Linked DNA regions of Homo sapiens: all the other regions are linked to region 1. Evidence: fine-mapped expression QTL. A gene starts in region 1. Each other region holds a variant in brackets. All regions are shown on one strand. Distances are between the middles of the regions.

What was found. PIP is the estimated chance that this variant, and not a neighbour inherited with it, causes the effect. A credible set is the group of variants that fine-mapping cannot tell apart.
Region 2: its variant is the best candidate, but not a certain one, in a credible set for the expression of NIT2 in sun-exposed skin (GTEx, PIP 0.76).
Region 3: its variant is the best candidate, but not a certain one, in a credible set for the expression of NIT2 in whole blood (Lepik 2017, PIP 0.63).

Annotation. Positions count from the first base shown.
Region 1 is chr3:100,333,711-100,336,474 of GRCh38, reverse strand. It overlaps NIT2 (nitrilase family member 2), which reads right to left and starts at 1,718. Exons shown (of 10, transcript NM_020202.5): 1 at 1,677-1,718. The coding sequence starts at 1,683. RefSeq lists silencers at 696-990, 1,389-1,718 and enhancers at 959-1,038, 1,159-1,218, 1,239-1,288, 1,382-1,950.
Region 2 is chr3:100,364,007-100,366,770 of GRCh38, reverse strand. It overlaps TOMM70 (translocase of outer mitochondrial membrane 70), which reads left to right. Exons shown (of 12, transcript NM_014820.5): 12 at 1,054-2,764. The coding sequence ends at 1,207. Among named protein-coding and RNA genes, the nearest start is that of NIT2, 31 kb to the right of the region's middle. The variant G/C (reference allele first, on the strand shown) is at 1,412.
Region 3 is chr3:100,421,450-100,424,213 of GRCh38, reverse strand. All of the region lies in intron 1 of LNP1 (leukemia NUP98 fusion partner 1), which reads right to left. Among named protein-coding and RNA genes, the nearest start is that of LNP1, 21 kb to the right of the region's middle. The variant T/G (reference allele first, on the strand shown) is at 1,344.

The sequences.
Region 1 (2,764 bases):
CCGACGGGATCCTCCGTATGCCGAACGCTGGTCCCCTGGGCCCCCCTACTTCTTTCTCTATACTTTGTTTGTGTCTTTTTCTTTTCCAAGTCTCTCGTTCCACCTAACGAGAAACACCCACAGGTGTGGAGGGGCAACCCACCCCTTCAATTAGTAATGGCCTGCCCGAACTTCCCATCCCACCTCTGCTCCAGAGTCTGAAAATCCTACCATTAGAGAGCTATCTCTTTTGGGTGTTTCCTGTAACAACGCAAATGTCTCCAGAAAAGGCAACAATGACAAACCCTGGCCTCTGATGAAGGCCTGTTTGGCTCAGGGTTAACTAAAAGGAAAACTCAGATGTCCCATTCCTTGATCTATCCTAAATATAGTGAGAAGCACTAAATTTAACCCTGAAGGCAGCCTGCTAAATAGTTATAGAATCTGAAGGGAAACTAAAACAGGAAATAAAAGCTGGGATTATTCTGGGGCAAACAGATATTTTGAGCTGTTATCAGAACAGCAGATAAATCCACTAAACGTCTCCCCTCCATTTCCCAGCGTTAAGCCATTCTCCCTCCTCAGCTTCCCAAGTAGTTTGGGACTAAAGGGGCGTGCCACCACACCGGGCTAATTTTGTATTTTTTAGTACAGACAAGGTGTCGCCATGTTGCCCAGGCTGGTCTCCAACTCTTGACTCGTGAACTCAAGCGATCCTCGTGCCTCAGCTTCCCAAACTGTTGGGATTACAGGCGTGAGCCACGTGCCGGGCCATGTCTGTGCTTCCGAGGGTGGGAAAGATAAAGCTCACCATGGCTACGCTGATGGCTTCCTCTCCTACACATCTCACCCACAAGGGCGGGGTCCTCAACTAAGCTTAGGACTGCCTATCATTCTGCAAATGACCCACTCTACAGACATGCTGCAGCAGGGAAACCCCGCCACTGGGCAGTTCCTCATGCTGAGGAGGAGACGCCCGTCACTCCATCTCATCTGTAAAGTGAAGACTTTTAAGGCTGCCCTAATATTCATCATAATCTAACAACGAAGACCTTACCAAGGGGCGGAAAAAAAGAATAAAATACTGTGAGCGAAGGAAACAACAAAGGAATAACATTTAAAGCAATGTGCCAGGTCCTTCACACATTAACATCATTGTGTGAGGTATCATTAACATCATTTTACAAATAAAGAAACAGGGGACTTGCAGGGGGAAAGCTGCACAAAGTCACTGAACAAAGTAAGTGACACAGCAAGAATCCAAGTCAAAATCTGGAGCTGGAAAGTGAGTGGGGAGACGAAGAACCGCCTGGGCACCTTTGTGCAGGGCGGGGCTGGAGGAGGTCACGCAACTTGAAAACACCCAAGGGAGTTGGATCCTACCACCGCGGCCCACACCGTGGAGAAATACACGTCCATCAGCCTCTGTCAAGCAGGACGCGGCGGGTGCCGGCGCGGCCGGGTGGCCTGGTGCTTTCTGGGCCTCGCCCGCCACCCCGGAAGCCTGGAATCCCGGGAGTGCGCCCGGCCGCCCGGCCACGCGATCCCGGACCCACGCGGACGCCCGCCTCAGGGAAGGCCGCGCACGGCGGGGACGCGGGGCGGAGGGGCTGAGCCGGCCGAGCCACCGCCGGCGCCGCTCCAAAGCCTCCCCCGCGGCCCGAACTCGAGCTGCAGCGCGCGGCCGCGCCACTTACAGGTCATGACTCTGCAGACAAGCACCACCTGCGGCGCGGACTGAGCGCTGGAGATCCGGCGGACCGCGGCGTCGCTACGGTGGGGCGGGGACCGCGTCAGAGGCCCCGCCCCACCCCTCCTCCTGGCCCCGGCCGGGAGGAGAGAAGGGTCTGCGTTCATTCCAGTGCGCCTGTAACACCAGGACGGACCAACGAGAAATGGTTAATTGCAACACAGTCCGGAAAAAGCATGCCTCGAAAGGCAAAGGGCAAAAGGGAACGGCCTAAGTCGAGGTGGTGTGCTGGTGAATGTCTTAACAACCAGACTTTTCAGGGAGGAAAGCCCTGATTTGTAGCGTTTGCTGATTCTCCGCAAAAGGACTGAACTTCTAGCTGGTTGAATCACCTCTGTGGCCAGGTTAACACCGTATGCTGATGGGCTTGAGCTATTTGAACAAGTCTCTGTGACGGGGACGGAATGACCCTGGTTGGTTTAGGCACGCGAGACGTCTGTAAAATCTGACTACAAGGCTGCTAGGCCAACGGGAAAGATGCTGAGGGTTCAACGCCATGCCCTCAACAAGTCAGTCCTCGAATACATTGTCATCTCTTTGCTAATATCCTTTTTTGTTTGTTTGTTTTAGACAGGGTCTCACTCTGTCATCCAGTCAGGAGTGCAGTGCAGCAGTCTCAGCCCATTGCAGCCTCAACCTCCCGGCTCAAGCGATCCTCCGTCCTCAGCCTCCCAAGTAGCTGGGACTACAGGCACACACCACCACACCTAGCTATTTCTTTTCCTTTTTTCTTTTTCTTTCTTTCTTTCTTTTTTTTTTTTTTTTAAGTTTTTTACTTTTAATAGAGGTGGGGCCTTGCTATTTTGCCCAGGCTGGTCTCAAACTCCTGAGCTCAAGACCCTACTGCCTTAGCCTCCCAAAGTGCTGGAATTATAGGCGTGAGCTGCTGCGCCCAGCCTATAGACTATGATTTTTGCATTTTTATTTATTAGATTGCTTTTTAATTTTCGTGTTTTGTGTTTTTGTGCCTTGTCAGACTTGTGGAACAAAAATCCAAAACTTAACCACCTTTTGGAATGCCCCAGAATAGTTTAT
Region 2 (2,764 bases), 30 kb before region 1:
GTTAACTAAAGACCTCTGATAGGGTTTGATGGAATTTTGTTCACGTTAATTGAACTTTGAAAAAATCCATTCTGAACCTTACAATTAAATAAGTGAATTTGAATAAATGAAATTGCAGATTATCCTAGGATTTTGCAGATCTGCTAGCTGTTGGCCTAATGCCAGAACATGAACTCTTGAAAAAAGTTTTTTTTAAAAATAAGCCTATCACGTTGCCATATATTATAATGGGGGATTAAATATAGTCACCCTAGTGGTACCTCTTACTGGCATATAAAGTCTAACTGGCACATATGCCAATAAAATGTACCTTACTAACATGTATGCCAGTTAGACTCTGTATATGCAGGTATATATATATATAGTAGGGACTTAATATTCTTTGTAGGATTGCATATATATGTAGCTAATACTAGTTACTTAAAACAGTTGGTTCTTAGATAGCTGTGGATTTGACCAGAATCAGGCAGAGGCAATAAATCTGAGTATTTATTGAGTAGGTGTGAGGAACTCACATAGACTGCCTGAAGAGTAGAGATGCATGGGGTTGGGGATGTGCTGGTAAGAGATGAAACAGAAAGAGGTGGGCCCACATCAGTCTGTGAAGGTAAGGCCCTTGCATGTCATTAGTGTCCCGGTATTATGTCACTGCTTTCTAAAGGAGTCTCATGTTAACAGTAGAAACATGTAAAATTTAGGAACCAGACGGAATTGTGATTTTAAATAAGCCAATCAATTTCCCTAGTCTGACTGTTCTTATCAGTAAACACAGAATACAAGGGATATAATGTAAGCACATAGTATTTGTAATAGTAGTTGACATTCATTGAGTGCTTTCAATGTGGTAGGTACTCTTGTTTATTTTAAAAGAAGCATTTTACTAGAATCATAGTAGAAACTTAGTGGTCAGACTTCATGTAGCATCACTTACAACCTTCATTGAATATTGTGAAGAAACTTAGTGGTCAGACTTCATGTACCATCACTTACAACCTTCATTGAATATTGTGAAGTGCTTGTTGAATCTGAGACTTAAAAATTTTGTTCTTTTAGAGGAAACATGGAGAAAGCCATTGACATGTTCAACAAAGCTATTAACCTGGCCAAATCGGAAATGGAGATGGCCCATCTGTATTCACTTTGCGATGCCGCCCATGCCCAGACAGAAGTTGCAAAGAAATACGGATTAAAACCACCAACATTATAAAACAGGGGGAAAGCAGACTGACCCTCTTTTTAAAAGTTTACCCCCTCTTCAACTGAACCCTAAAGACACTGTCATGAACTGTGTTGAATGGTGGAAATCAGTATTTCTGTTTGTGGTGTTGTTATTTGTTACATCTGTTTCATGTCTAGGTGTTGTGGGTGTGGCTGTTGAAGGAAGTTTGCAGTCTTGCAGCTTTTATTCCCT[G/C]TGCAACAAAAGATTAGAACATGTTAAAGGGATTTTTAAATAAAGTTGCAAAGAGTACAAATGATAATTGGCCATGCAAATAAAAACTGATTTGTTGATTTTTTTTTTAAGGGGGGTTGGCAGTTGATTATGTTCTGGATGATTCCGTCTATATATGTGTGAATAATGTAAGTATTTTACAGCATGTTGATTTTTAAATTAACGTAGTAAATGCTGTAAAATAGATTTATATTCAGTTAACCGCTTTCAGTTGATTTTTTGAAAGAAACAAAGGTTAAATGGGGGATTAAAGTAAAATTGAGAGACCCTTTAAACCATTGTCAGCATGCACAATGCCTCTGATTCTGCAGTTTTAGAAACTTGGTGGCACTTATTAATCCTCTTGGCCCCTTTCCACTCTAATGGATAGTGTACATTCTTCTTAAAGTCCACAACAGCAGATTTTCTTGCAGTAAATTATGCAGATGCAAAATATTCTAATTGATATATGTGTTGGAAGACTGAGTATTGATGGGGGAGTGGACCAGACAAAGAGGTAAGATGAAACAGTAGTGTGTTTATAATTGTCTGTGACTATTTTCTATAATAATTAGTACTATTTAATGGTGAGCTTTTAAAAATGTAGGATAGAGGGTACAGTGGCACTGTATATACTATTTATAGTCTCAGCTACTAGGGAGGCTGAGGCAAGAGGCTTGAGACCAGGAGCTCGAGGCTGTAATGTGCCATGATGATTGCACCTGCGAATAGCCACTGCACTCCAGCCTGGGCAATATAGCAAGACCCCATCCTTTAAAAAATTTTAGAACTTTTTTAAAATCAAAGTGCAGATTGCTTGTATGTAAAACCCAAATAAAGGTAGAGTAAGTGTGATATATGGGAGTATTAAAATAGCTTAAAATTTCTCGTGAAGGACATGTGGCTAAAGGGTCAAAAAGGATGTAAGACTTGGAGCCAGAGCATAGTATTTCCTGAAATAACAAGTTTAGTGCTTTAACTATGGCTACATGTGCTTAAGGAATTTTGAGCCACTTATTTTTGAAGATGCTGAGGACATGTAGAGTGCTTTTTGTAGTGAGCTAACCTTGATCTCTAAGGACTAACTACCCAGGTCCAGGTCTTCACTAGGGGTACTGACAGTGTTTAAGCTTTACTCCACCTCCTTACTTAGAAATCACTTTACGATTTATTTCCATTTTCCACTTTTATAGACCATCCTTTTGCTTATATGCTAGATTTTTCTGGTGAGGGAAGGGTTGTGTTCTTCAGGGGTCTTTTGTTTTGAAATACTCAGGATGGGGAGAGGTTTATTTAAGAACGAATTATAATTATGGTTTACACTGTTGGGAGTAA
Region 3 (2,764 bases), 88 kb before region 1:
GATCAAAAATTCTCCCAAAACAACAAGATGTAAATATACCCCAGAAAGAAAAAGGGATTTGGACTACATTAAAGAAAATGAGACTTCCAACTCCATTTTTTCTCCTAGTTAAGCCTATTTCTTCTTTAAAAACATGAGGAAAAGATAGCTCCCTACTCTACTACGCTAAGGTTCTTAAAACAAACATGGGGCAGCAAAAAAGCACTAGCAGAAAGTGTCAAGTCTTTCAGCACTGGGAGAGATGCTCTTCTGGGCTTTCTTGGGAGCCCTGGCCTGAGGGGAGGCTCCAGCCCACTCCTGAAGCCCAGATACCTGCTTTCCCTAGTAACGGCCCTGGGCACCTGCCTTGAGGAGATGCTGCTGGGGATGCGTACCAAAGGGAGCTGCGCTTTTTACCCTGCACCTTTTTGAGCCTGCAGGATGATGCAAAAGCTGCCAAGTGACTGCGACAGCTGCAGCTTCTGAGCTGAGAATTTGAGTATCATGCTGACACTCAAGAAAATGAGAATTTTCTTATCATGCTGAATGTGAAAAAAAAAATACCTTCTCTTACAGAATAGGAAGCTTGCAGTGTGTGTATTCTCATAAAGTGAACGGATATCATGGGTGCCCAGGTAATCAGTGAAAATGATCCTTGGGCTGTCAAGTGGTTTCTCAGTGCCCTCTCTCTTAGGAGACTATGCAATTATGAGAAAATGATTTTCCCTTTATTTATTTTTATAGAGATGAGGTCTCACTACGTTGCCCAGGCTGGTCTCGAACTCCTGGACTCAAGCAATCCTCCAACCTCAGCCTCCCAAAGTGTTAGGATTACAGGAGTGAGCCACCACGCCCATCCGATTTTCCCTTTATTTATTTCACTGTCCCAGTGCCATGCCGTTGTTGCAGTAGTAACTTATTTTTTTTTATTTCGTTTTTCTTTTTCTTAACAGTTAAGGGAAAGCATCATTCCTCTTACTGATTTCAAGCTTGACTGAACCGGTCTCATTCTAGAAAGGAAATGCTATGTCCAGAAGAGCTAAACTGCTACATCTTTTTTTCTTTTTAACGGTCAAAATACATCAGTGGTTTTGAGTCAGTTTTTACTTCCCAGAAAGCAGTGCTTAAATACTTGAAACTGTGTGCTATGTTCTATTCAATGACCTGATTGTCAGACTCTTGTTTAGTGGCAACGTGTCATAGTATAATCATCCATTTCCTTGTATATTATCAAGTTATACTGTGAAGTCTGCCACTCTTTTGAGGTGGTCATCAAAGACACACCTTTTTTAACCAAGTGTCCTAAAGCATGTCTCTAAGGGTATATCACCATTATTTTTTATTCTAAAAAGCCGTGAAGCATG[T/G]ATTATGAGAACTGTTTTTAAACTATGCCACTAGTGGTGCAAAAAAAAAAAAAAAAAAAAAAAAAAAGAGGAGACAAAGCAAGGTATGTTTTCAGAGATTTGCCTATAAAATATTGGTTATATAAATATCCAGTTACCTTGGCATTAAGCATCATTAAATTCTTCAGGATTTTGGCTAAAGGTGGGCTTCATAATAGTTGTTAGACATTGGAAGAGATTTTGAAGAGCCAATAAATCATCTCTTACACAAGAGACCTTCAAACACAGCCCTGATTCTCATCTGCCAAAGATGAAATCTCTGTAGCTTTGTCTCCAAAAGTGTTATTAGTTGGTTGACCTCTCAAGGTCTCTTCAATCCCTAGGCACCAATTATTCTAAAACAGACGAGCTACTACTGTTAAAATTTACTACTATGTAAAAAACTTTTTGGGAGGCTGAGGCAGGCGGATCACAAGGTCAGGAGATCAAGACCATCCTGGCTAACACAGTGAAACCCTGTCTCCACTAAAAATGCAAAAAATTAGCTGGGCTTGGTGGCAGGTGCCTATAGTCCCAGCTACTCAGGAGGCTGAGGCAGGAGAATGGCCTGAACCCGGGAGGCGAAGCTTGCAGTGAGCCCAGATCATGCCACTTCACTCCAGCCTGGGCGACTAAGCAAGACTCCATAGCAAAAAAAAAAAAAAAAAAAGACTTTATCAATCCAGTTCATCAGTGTGCTATACTTCAGAAAGGCTTCCTTTCAGTTATTAACTGCAATGTCACAGAATCTAAAGGTAATGCCTCAGCACTTCTGTTGAATCTACAAGCCTCTCCATAAGAAGTGATCCAAACAAGAACTGGGGGAATTGAGAGTCCTGAGTGCCTCATATTTGAGAGGGACAAAATGCTGCAATTTACAATAAAGGAGAGGATCATCATACACATAAAGAAAACTGACAAAATACAACATTTAGGAAAATAAATTGCAAAAACTAAAGTTTGAGTTAAAAAATAATGTGAAGTTTTCAGACTATTAAAACAAAAAAACTTGAACCTCCATAACATTCTTTTCTGAGGATCAAATATCACATGTTATTAGCAGGAATAAGGTCTTTATGGAAAGGTATATGGCAAGATGCATTTAAAAGCTTTAAAAAAAATTTGCATCCTTTGACCCAGAAATTTCTCTCTTTTTTACAAGTGGGTAGTAAGAGGTACATACAAGGATGTTTGTTCACATAACATTATTTAAAATAGCAAAAACTTGTAAGATGTGGAAACATCTTAAAAGTACAACAACTGGAGATCAGGCTAATACATTACGATATATTTATATAACAGAATTCTATGCAATCATCAAAAATCATAGGACTTAATGACACAGGAAACTTCTCAAAATAAAATACAATACAGGGTGATAATTAATTTTGTGTGTCAACTTC